2 linked regions of the Homo sapiens genome follow. The protein of the gene in region 2 purifies or fractionates together with the protein of the main gene of each other region. This does not show direct contact. Each region holds a gene or a part of one and is shown on either strand. Other genes may lie near its edges.

Region 1 (4,564 bases), on a different chromosome or scaffold from region 2:
CCTCAGACAACAACACCGAGTTCCTGAAAAACTTTATTGAGCTCATGGAGAAAGTGACTCCAGACTCCAAGCAGTGTGAGTGCCTGGCAGGGCAGCTGGCTCTGGGCAGTGCCCAGGCAGCATGGGGCCAGCCCAGAGGAACCCAGAGGCCGGGCAGGTGTGGAAATAAGCAGGCACAAGCTAAGGGCTGGGCCTGGGCCAGGGCCAGGTCATGGAGGAGGCTCCTGGTGGAGCCTTAAGGGTGGGGGTGAGGGTGGGCAAGGAGCTGCAAGAAGATGCCCCCACCCCCACCCCTCCCCTCCTGTTCCAGGCAACAACTTCCTTCTGCACAACCTGATCTTGGACACGGGCATCACGCAGCAGCTGGTAGAGCGTGTGTGGAGGGACCAGGATCTCAACACGTAGGCATCACCCAGCCTGTGGGGGCAGAAGGCTAGGATGGGCCCAGAGGCCCTGGACCTGCCCAGCAGAAGGCAGGCCTGTGACCCCACCCCCCTGCTACCCCCAGGTACAGCCTACTGGCCGTGTTCGCTGCCACAGACGGTGGCATCACCCGAGTCTTCCCCAACAAGTAAGTGACCTATCCCACTACCCAAACCCTGCCCCTGCCAGGGAACCTGCATCTGTTCTGCCCAGAGGCCTCCTTGCATCTGTGGAGACCACTGTCCCCGACAAGCCACCCCTTACCTACCAGTCTGCCTCTTGGGTGCTCCAGGGCAGCTGAGGACTGGACAGAGAACCCTGAGCCCTTCAATGCCAGCTTCTACCGCCGCAGCCTGGATAACCACGGTTATGTCTTCAAGCCCCCACACCAGGATGGTGAGTGTCCCCGCAGTGTGCCCAGCAGCAGGCAGGGAGCCTCAGCTTCCCTGTCTGCTCAGCCAGAACTGGGCTCTGCTGTCTGAGGCCCCTCTCCAACACAAGGCTGGCTGAGGCCAGGGCAGACGTGAAAAGAGGGATAGACTGTGCCAAACACTGTCCTGAGTGCTGGGTGCTTGGGCTGGAGTCATCCCGGGATTGGACTGCTGGGTTTGTAGGACCCAGCATAGAGTGGTCAGTGTGGCCGCCAGACCCCACTCCTGACTTCCCCACCCAACCCCCAGCCCTGTTAAGGCCGCTGGAGCTGGAGAATGACACTGTGGGCATCCTCGTCAGCACAGCTGTGGAGCTCAGCCTAGGCAGGCGCACACTGAGGCCAGCAGGTGAATGTTTGGGACAGAGGTGGGGAAACAGGCAATGGACAGGGTACTGCCTGGGCAGGTAGCACTGATGGTCCCTTGCTCTCCCCCAAAGTGGTGGGCGTCAAGCTGGACCTAGAGGCTTGGGCTGAGAAGTTCAAGGTGCTAGCCAGCAACCGTACCCACCAAGACCAGCCTCAGAAGGTATTTGGGCAGGGGCGGGGGCAGTAACCCAGCAGTGCCCTTCCTGGAGTCCCCTGGAACCCCCACCAACCCTCCACTCAGTGGCTCCAACACCTACATGGAGGCAGGGCCAGCTGCAGATGGCCTGGGGAACCGGATGTATGAAAGGTGATGGGAGGGAGGAAAACTGGTGGGTGGCTTACGGTCCTCACTCTCTGCCCAGCAGTGCGGCCCCAACAGCCACTGTGAGATGGACTGCGAGGTTAACAATGAGGTGTGTGTGCCCTGAACCTACCCTGGACCCTAGCTTACCCCACTTCCAGACTTCCTAGTCCCAGCCGCGACTCCCAGCACATCCCTTGGCCTGTGGGTCTCAACATCCCCACCCTGACTTCACAGCCTTCCCAGGACTGGGGGAGTGATGCCCCCCAACTCTGAACCACTGGACTGCCTGCGGTGGAAGGTCCGGGGCCCAGCCCCTCTCCATTTTCCTCCCCATTCCCTTCCTCCTAGGACTTACTCTGTGTCCTCATTGATGATGGAGGATTCCTGGTGCTGTCAAACCAGAACCATCAGTGGGACCAGGTGAGGATCAGGAAGAGAGTGAAAGAAGAGAGTAGGGATTTGAGCCTTCTAGGGGTGTAGCACTGCCAGCCCTGTGACCATGGCTTTCTCCTGACATCCTCAGGTGGGCAGGTTCTTCAGTGAGGTGGATGCCAACCTGATGCTGGCACTCTACAATAACTCCTTCTACACCCGCAAGGAGTCCTATGACTATCAGGCAGCCTGTGCCCCTCAGCCCCCTGGCAACCTGGGTGCTGCACCCCGGGGTGTCTTTGTGGTGAGTCCCCAGAGATGCCTGGACTGGAGATGGGGGGGACTGGGAGACCTGCCCACAGATGACCCCCTACCTCTGACATTTGATAAAGCTGGGGGTGACCTAGGGCGAGGGGCAGCAGTGGCAGTCCACGCCCCTCTCTCCACTGCAGCCCACCGTTGCAGATTTCCTTAACCTGGCCTGGTGGACCTCTGCTGCCGCCTGGTGAGTCCTGAGCGGGAGGTGGGTAGAGAAGGTGCTCCCTGGCCGGGAGGGCTCAGAAGAGAAGTAGGGCATGGCATCGTCCTCTGCTGACCACCTGCACTCGGCTCCCCGTGCGCTGCAGGTCCCTGTTCCAGCAGCTTCTCTACGGCCTCATCTACCACAGCTGGTTCCAAGCAGGTAGGTAGGGCTTTGGAGGCGCCTCCTCAAGTCCGGGTCCCCAATCTGAGCTAAGACGACTCCATGGGGAGGGTGGGGTCTACGACTGAGGGAGGCCGGAGACCTTGCCAGGGTCTGTGGGCGGAGCTGAGGCGCTCTGGGCCCTCGCAGACCCCGCGGAGGCCGAGGGGAGCCCCGAGACGCGCGAGAGCAGCTGCGTCATGAAACAGACCCAGTACTACTTCGGCTCGGTAAACGCCTCCTACAACGCCATCATCGACTGCGGAAACTGCTCCAGGTGCTGGCAGTGGGGCGGGACCAGAGGCCAAGGGCGGAACCTGTGAGCGGGGCGAGACGCTCGGGAGGATGGAAGGGGCGGGGCCTCCGAGCGGCCGGGGGCGGGGCCGCAGGATGGGGGTGGGTCAGGGCGGGGCAAACTCAACGCCCCGCCTTTCCGGGCTGCCCGCAGGCTGTTCCACGCGCAGAGACTGACCAACACCAATCTTCTCTTTGTGGTGGCCGAGAAGCCGCTGTGCAGCCAGTGCGAGGCTGGCCGGCTGCTGCAGAAGGAGACGCACTGTATCCTGCCCCCGCCCTCCCCGCCGCCCGCTCCCCCTCTGCCCCGCGCGCCCCCTCCGTGCCGCCGCCGCCGTCCGCCTCCTTGACTCCCCACCCATGCCCAGCGGACGGCCCGGAGCAGTGTGAGCTAGTGCAGAGACCGCGATACCGGAGAGGCCCGCACATCTGCTTCGACTACAACGCGACAGTGAGGAGAGGGGGCGGTGGACCCGAAATCCCGCGGCCTTGCGCCCGCCCAGGCCGACCAGCTCCTTGTCTCTCCCCGCAGGAAGATACCTCAGACTGTGGCCGCGGGGCCTCCTTCCCGCCGTCGCTGGGCGTCCTGGTCTCCCTGCAACTGCTGCTCCTCCTGGGCCTGCCGCCCCGGCCGCAGCCTCAAGTCCTCGTCCACGCCTCTCGCCGCCTCTGAGCACCCTGCCCCACCCCACCTCCACTCCCACCTCACCCGGCCTCTTCGCCTTTCCCACCCTCCTGCCCCACACTCCCCGCCTTAGAGCCTCGTCCCTCCCTCACTGAAGGACCTGAGCTGGCCAGGCCCTGAGAGTCTGGTCTGCGCCTTGGGATGGGGAGTCCCAAAGCGGGACGCCGCAGGTGTTTGGCACCCAAATCACATCTCACCTCCGAACTGTTCAAGTGTCCCCAGACCCTTCTTGCCTGCTGGGCTCCCCCCAGTGGGATGGGACAGGGAGGCCACACGCACTGGTGCCAAAACCAGGCCTCTGCTGCCGCCCTTCCTGGAGGCTGCCTATGTTGGGGGGGACCCTGCCTCAGCTGACCCGGCCTCTCTGCCCCACCCAAGCCCAAACTTGGTTTCTGTGAGAATAGTGGAGGAAGGTGAGATGGCCAGTTTGAAGCCTGTGCCTCCCAGCTTAAATCCTAGCAGGAGAGAGGCTCTGGGGCAGCCCCCATGGGCTCCTGCCCCTTTCAGGCCTACAGCCACATCCCCAAGCCCACCAGGTGTCAGGATAGTCACAGTGATACCAGTTCAGACACTACCCCATATACACCTGGAACATTGAGGATGGAAACTGGACTCACATTCGACATACCCCACTGGGCACACGCACAAACACACACACTATGGGGTGGGGTGGGTGTAGGGGCTTACAAAGCCTTACACAGGGCGAGGGGTTGGTGGGAGGGTTGGCACCTGCACACTCCATCTCCTGCTCACCACCTGCCTCTAATCTGAGCTGCAGCCTGGCTGGTCCTCCCATTTCTAAAGCTGAATGTCAAACAGTGCCAAATGCTGGGGCAGGGGGTGAAGAACCCTCTGTCCCACCCCTAGCCACCAGTGTCCTCCAAGTGCCCCCTCACCTCTCCAGGTGCTCATTGTAACCATTTCTCACTAGTGTCAGGCCCCCAGTGGGACCACATGCCACTGCCTGCACCTTTCGGCAGAGGAACCCCCACCAGACATCACCCT
Region 2 (5,303 bases):
TTTACCTACCCCAGGAGCCTGCCTTCCACACATACATTAATAACACCAACCAGTAATGTCAAAAGGAAAAATTACAAACCCAGAAAATTAAAGTCATTCTGCACTTGCCCTTGGTTTAACAGGCATTTCACTCTTGGCACCTTTCCTGTCCTATCATTAATAAGCATCTTATTGATACAGTTTATACTCCAAATTCTCCAGGCTTGTGAAAGTTTCCTCAGGATTGCTTGAAAATGAAAGTCCTGGCCAGGTGCGCAGTGGCTCATGCCTGTAATCCCAGCACTTTGAGAGGCCGAGGCGGGTGGATCACCCGAGGTCAGGAGTTCAAGACCAGCGTAGCCAACATGGTGAAACCCTGTCTCTACTAAAAGTACAAAAATTAGCCAGGTGTGGTCGCAGGCGCCTGTAGTCCTAGCTACTCAGGAGGCTGAGGCAGGAGAATTGCTTAAATTCGGAGGCAGAGGTTGCAGTGAGCTGAGATCGCGCCACTGCACTCCAGCCTGGGCGACAGAATGAGGCTGTCTCAAAAAAAAAAAAAAAAAAAGAAAGAAAAAAAGAAAAGAAAAGAAAAGTCCTGAGGAGAAAACTCCCACTATCTCTGTGCATGTGATCACACATATTAGTATACTATATGTGGAATGATTCCAAGTGCATTTTAAATTTATAGTACCATTTTAAATTCAAGCTGGTAATATGTACTGCCTGGCAGAACTCCTAAAGATATATCAGCTCCTTTGACATCCAGGAAGACATTTTCCTTCCAGAATTCTTCAATCTCTTTTAAATCAGTACAGTTCTATTTTTCAAATATCTACATGTGTCTACTCCATGAAGTACTGTGTCATCGTGACTATAAAAATAGTGAAACTTCTCTCTCACTTTCCAGCAGCCTGGGGCATCGCCAAGAGCCTGAAAGGACCCCTTACAGTCAAATCCACAAGGTCATTTAGACACTGGCCACCGGAGATTGCACCTAAGACTTTTCCTTTTCAAAACAGGACTCTTTTCATGATGCAATTGTTTTTCCCTTACTAACCAACCTTACTGAATTTGGTTGAAGGAAACCAGAGAGTAGCCAGCTTCCAATTAATCTGCAAGCTGGAGGGGGAATCAGTTTGCCTTTCTCATAGCATTCACCCTGAAGGATAACTCCTAATTACCAACAGGATTCCCTAACAGAGTCTAGTTTATCTCATGCCCTAGCTAGGAGAAGAGAGAAGTGGCCATTTCTGAGCCCTGGCTGGATAAGGTTTCCCCTGCTCCCATTATCTCCCCAACCCCACTATCTCCCCAACACCAGAAACTGTTCGAGGTGGAGGAGGTGAACTGCATCTGCGTGGACTGGAAGAAGGGCTCCCAAGCCACCTACACACAGGCTGCCAACAACGTGCGAGTGGTGGGCGCCCAGGTGGCCCAGATGCTCGACATCCTCTTGGTGAGTCAGCTGGCTGGCCTATGTGAGGAGGGAAGCAGTGCCTGCTGGTCTCTGTTTGGTAGAGATGCAGCTGAGAGTTATGGATTAAAGAAGGACAAAGAATTGATATCCAGACCTTACTTCTAAAACTCTGAAATTTGCCTTCATAATGACACGCCAGTGGAAGCAAAAATAAGAATCGCTAACACTTAGAAAGTGGTTTTTTAAAAATCATCTTCAATTTACAGATAAAGAAACTGAGGCCCAGAAAGTTTAACTAGTTTGCTCCCAAAGTCATAAAGCAAATGAATAGAAGACCTGCCTTTTGATCCAGACCATCTAGCTTCAGAATTCACCCACAACACCAGGTGGGCTCTGTTTCGCGTGAAACACAGCATGGCCAGAGAGAGCCACAGAGAGCCAACGGACAGTACGTGCAATTGGCATGTACCAGCTCTACTGGCCTGGTGGTATGGGTCCTATTGATGTTGGGGAATTCCTTCTGCCACAATCATTTCACTTATTTCTTCCTATACTGTTTCATTATAGCTAACTCCTTCAGTCTTTAATTCTTTAAGTTGCTAATCCTTTGTGACTATTTTCTATACCAGGTAATGACTACAGCCATTTCTGTCTTATAGTTAAAGGGTCTACAAAAGAATCAACTTCTGCACTCCTGCAGAAATCAAAACCCATGGTATTTGTGCAAGAAGTATGATAGACCAATAAATGAAGTGCCTTTGGGTGAACGTCTCTGAGATCAACATGTGCAAATACCTCATAGCTCTATTTGATTTGCTTGTTCACCAGTACTTTTGGAGCAGAATGTCAGGAGTATGTGAGGAAGTAAAGAAGACACATGAGATCCCAGACCATCAAGGAGCTTGCAGTGAAAACTTGCAATGCCAGTAGAGTGCGATCTATTAGTGGGTTCTGATGGGGAGAGTAGGAGCTTTACAGGAACACATAGAAGGCAGCTAATCCACACTGATGGGGTGGGGAAAGGGCTTAAGGAGGTCTCCCAAGGAAGAGACGTCTAAATTGACAGCTGAAGGCTAGTCTGTTGATGTTAGCTGGCAAGTGCTTGGGGGATAGACAACAACAAGAAGAGAAGAACAAACCAGGCCCAGAGGTGAGAGGCTATGATGTATTCGAGGGTCTGAAAGTTCAACAAAGGGTTTGGCTGAAGAGTCTAGAAAAATAGATGATGAGTTAGGAAAGCTCGGAGGCCTTCAGAATGAGTTTGGGCTTGATCCTGAAGGCAATGAGAGGCATGGAAGGTTTTCAGCAGAGGAGTAATATCCATTAGGCTGGCATTTTAGAAAAACCACAGCAAAAAATGTCCTGAAAATACAATCTTCCCTCTCCAGACAGAGTATAGCTACCCCCCTTCCAAAGTTCACCTCATTGGCCACAGCCTGGGAGCCCACGTGGCTGGAGAGGCAGGAAGCAAGACTCCAGGCCTGAGCAGGATTACAGGTAAGGCCCCAGAGGCAGGGCCCCAGTTTTGTCCCCAGAAACCCCAGAATGAGGTCTCAAGAATGCAGCCCAGTTCAGAGCTCCCCTGAAGGAGACTGTCCCCCTTGGCTGTGATAGAGCTGCTTGGAGCCTGCACAGAACATTTTAGGGAGCCCCCAAGAAGCTCATGCGCCACCTTCACGGCAAGGGAAGGGTGATTTTGTTCCTCTTTGCTTCTTCCACCTCTGTCCTAGCCCCTCCTTTCTAAGTCCTGGTTTTCTGGTGGTGTTCGCCTCTCAACAGGACTGGGCACCCAGGAAAATGCAGAGTGAGACTAGTATGAACATGAGCAAAACATAATCAAGGAGGGTCTATATTGCCAATTCTTTCTCCCTTCTCTTTGAAATCAAGGGCAGAATAGAACCTAAAAATTGTTTCCCACTGCTTCTACTAGTAGAAGAAACCCAGTCGCCATTATGGCCAAAAGCATTCTTTTAACCCAATCAAAGCATTTGAATTATAACAGCAACAGCAAGATATATCTACATAATATGATGGTGATAATAATAATAATAATGCTATTATAATTATTATGATAAGCATAGATTAAGTGCCTGCTTATCCCAAATACTGCACAAAATGCTTTATATTTTCTTATATAATTCTCAGAACTGAAGAAAAAGGCTCAGGGATGCAAATAACTTGCCCAAAGCCACACAACTCATCAGTGGGAGAACTGAGATCCAGACCTGGTTTTGCCGATGTTTGGCTTAAGCAACTCTTTATAAGAAATCTCTCTTTTATTTTCAGCTGGCAACTACATTCACGTTCCTATTTTATCAGCTGCTGTAATGAAGCCTTCAAAAACTATTAACAAATCCAAGATCCCTACTAAGAAGGAAATTTGTCAAAAACAATAATTATTAATATCTTACTTATACACCCATGACTATACACCAGGCATTGTGCTAAGTGCTACCTATTAACTCATTTAATCTATAACAACCATATCAAATAGATGCCATTATCACCCCATTTTGTAAAATGAAGAACCTGAAGCACAAAAAGGTAGAGTGACATGCTCAAGGTCATGCATCTTGCCCCAAAAGCAGCTGAGTAGGAATTTGGAGCCAGGCAACCTAGACCCAGAACCTGTGTTCTTAACTATGATACCACATTGCTTCACCCCTTTCTTTCTACAAGCTTGGGGAGAGAAAGGATGATGAAGAAGAAAGATACACAAGTAAATGGGAGACTCTGGTGTGGAAAAAATCCTTGCTTAAACAAAATCTAAATTTCTTTGCTCATTTGTCCTCCTCCATCCACGCCACTGGGAACCCTTTTGCAATGAGCCACATTCAGACTCTATGTCCTCATATTTAGCACCCAAGGCCATGGCACTGCATCACTCTGGTGCATGGTACCCATTGAGTTGGGCAGTGCATAGCCCGGGCAGCTGTACACCTTGGTGCTGCTGACATCTACAGTCAGGTCTATTGTTCTGCAGTGCTGATCATCTCTTTTAGGGTTGGATCCTGTAGAAGCAAGTTTCGAGAGTACTCCTGAAGAGGTGCGACTTGATCCCTCTGATGCTGACTTTGTTGATGTGATTCACACGGATGCAGCTCCCCTGATCCCATTCTTGGGTGAGACCTATGATGCTCCAGCTGTGAGCACGCACAACTGTGTTTTAACCATGAAAGTCCTGCATGACAAAAAGCTCATTGTTTTTCTAAGCATTTCAGGTTTTGGAACGAACCAACAGATGGGTCATCTTGACTTCTTCCCCAATGGAGGAGAGAGCATGCCGGGATGCAAGAAGAATGCCCTGTCTCAGATCGTGGATCTAGATGGCATCTGGGCGGGTAAAGTCATGGTGGGGTGAGGGGAGCAGGGCGGGTACTTTCCTGGAGTGACCAATACCTTTCTGCAGCAAATCTTAAGAATAAAAATGAAACTGTCTTTAAAAATATACAATTCCCTCTTCTGGGGATTATTTCAGAAAAAATGTAGCTACATAGTATTTGTTATATCTCAGCTTTACTGCTTTTGTGCTTCCTTAAAACATTGCTGTGGATGTCCTGGCATGTACAAGCAACAAAGAATTATAAAACTGTCACTTAAAGCTGTGACTCCAGCAATCAGTTGGTAGTTACCTAATACAGAAAGGAAATACCATAAGAGCAAACATCCTGACTGTAACTAAGAGACTTTTGCTACAAATTCTCTCTTGGGAGTCAGTGATAAGGTTCAAAATGATGTAATCAGCTCCCTTTCAGTAGCTAGAATGAGAATATTCCCAGTGGTTTCCACAGCAAGCCTATTTGCACAATGAGAGCCATTGCTCACCCATGTTGAGTAGGAATGAGGAGCAATCACAGTTAAGGAAGGTGAGATGGGAGACTGCTATTGGATGTGGTTATTCTTTATT

Evidence for each region. Proteins that work in one complex are often made in the same cells at the same time.
Region 1: the proteins of PNLIPRP1 (region 2) and CACNA2D2 purify together in Homo sapiens (affinity purification with mass spectrometry; 2 studies listed by BioGRID and IntAct, with this or other methods). This does not show direct contact.

The regions. Positions count from the first base shown.
Region 1 is NC_000003.12:50,363,649-50,368,212, reverse strand, and holds part of CACNA2D2 (voltage-dependent calcium channel subunit alpha-2/delta-2 isoform b precursor), read left to right. Parts: coding exon 1-75; exon of another isoform or gene 76-310; coding exon 311-401; exon of another isoform or gene 402-417; intron 418-508; coding exon 509-571; intron 572-691; exon of another isoform or gene 692-715; coding exon 716-819; intron 820-1,103; coding exon 1,104-1,202; intron 1,203-1,293; coding exon 1,294-1,382; intron 1,383-1,584; coding exon of another isoform or gene 1,585-1,587; coding exon 1,588-1,635; intron 1,636-1,874; coding exon 1,875-1,946; exon of another isoform or gene 1,947-2,049; coding exon 2,050-2,202; exon of another isoform or gene 2,203-2,350; coding exon 2,351-2,403; exon of another isoform or gene 2,404-2,524; coding exon 2,525-2,580; exon of another isoform or gene 2,581-2,730; coding exon 2,731-2,857; intron 2,858-3,028; coding exon 3,029-3,138; intron 3,139-3,236; coding exon of another isoform or gene 3,237-3,242; coding exon 3,243-3,325; intron 3,326-3,406; coding exon 3,407-3,547; 3' UTR 3,548-4,564. UniProt on the Homo sapiens protein: The alpha-2/delta subunit of voltage-dependent calcium channels regulates calcium current density and activation/inactivation kinetics of the calcium channel.
Region 2 is NC_000010.11:116,593,430-116,598,732, forward strand, and holds part of PNLIPRP1 (inactive pancreatic lipase-related protein 1 precursor), read left to right. Parts: intron 1-1,300; coding exon 1,301-1,435; intron 1,436-2,784; coding exon 2,785-2,893; intron 2,894-4,398; coding exon 4,399-4,518; intron 4,519-4,609; coding exon of another isoform or gene 4,610-4,617; coding exon 4,618-4,737; intron 4,738-5,303. UniProt on the Homo sapiens protein: May function as inhibitor of dietary triglyceride digestion. Lacks detectable lipase activity towards triglycerides, diglycerides, phosphatidylcholine, galactolipids or cholesterol esters (in vitro).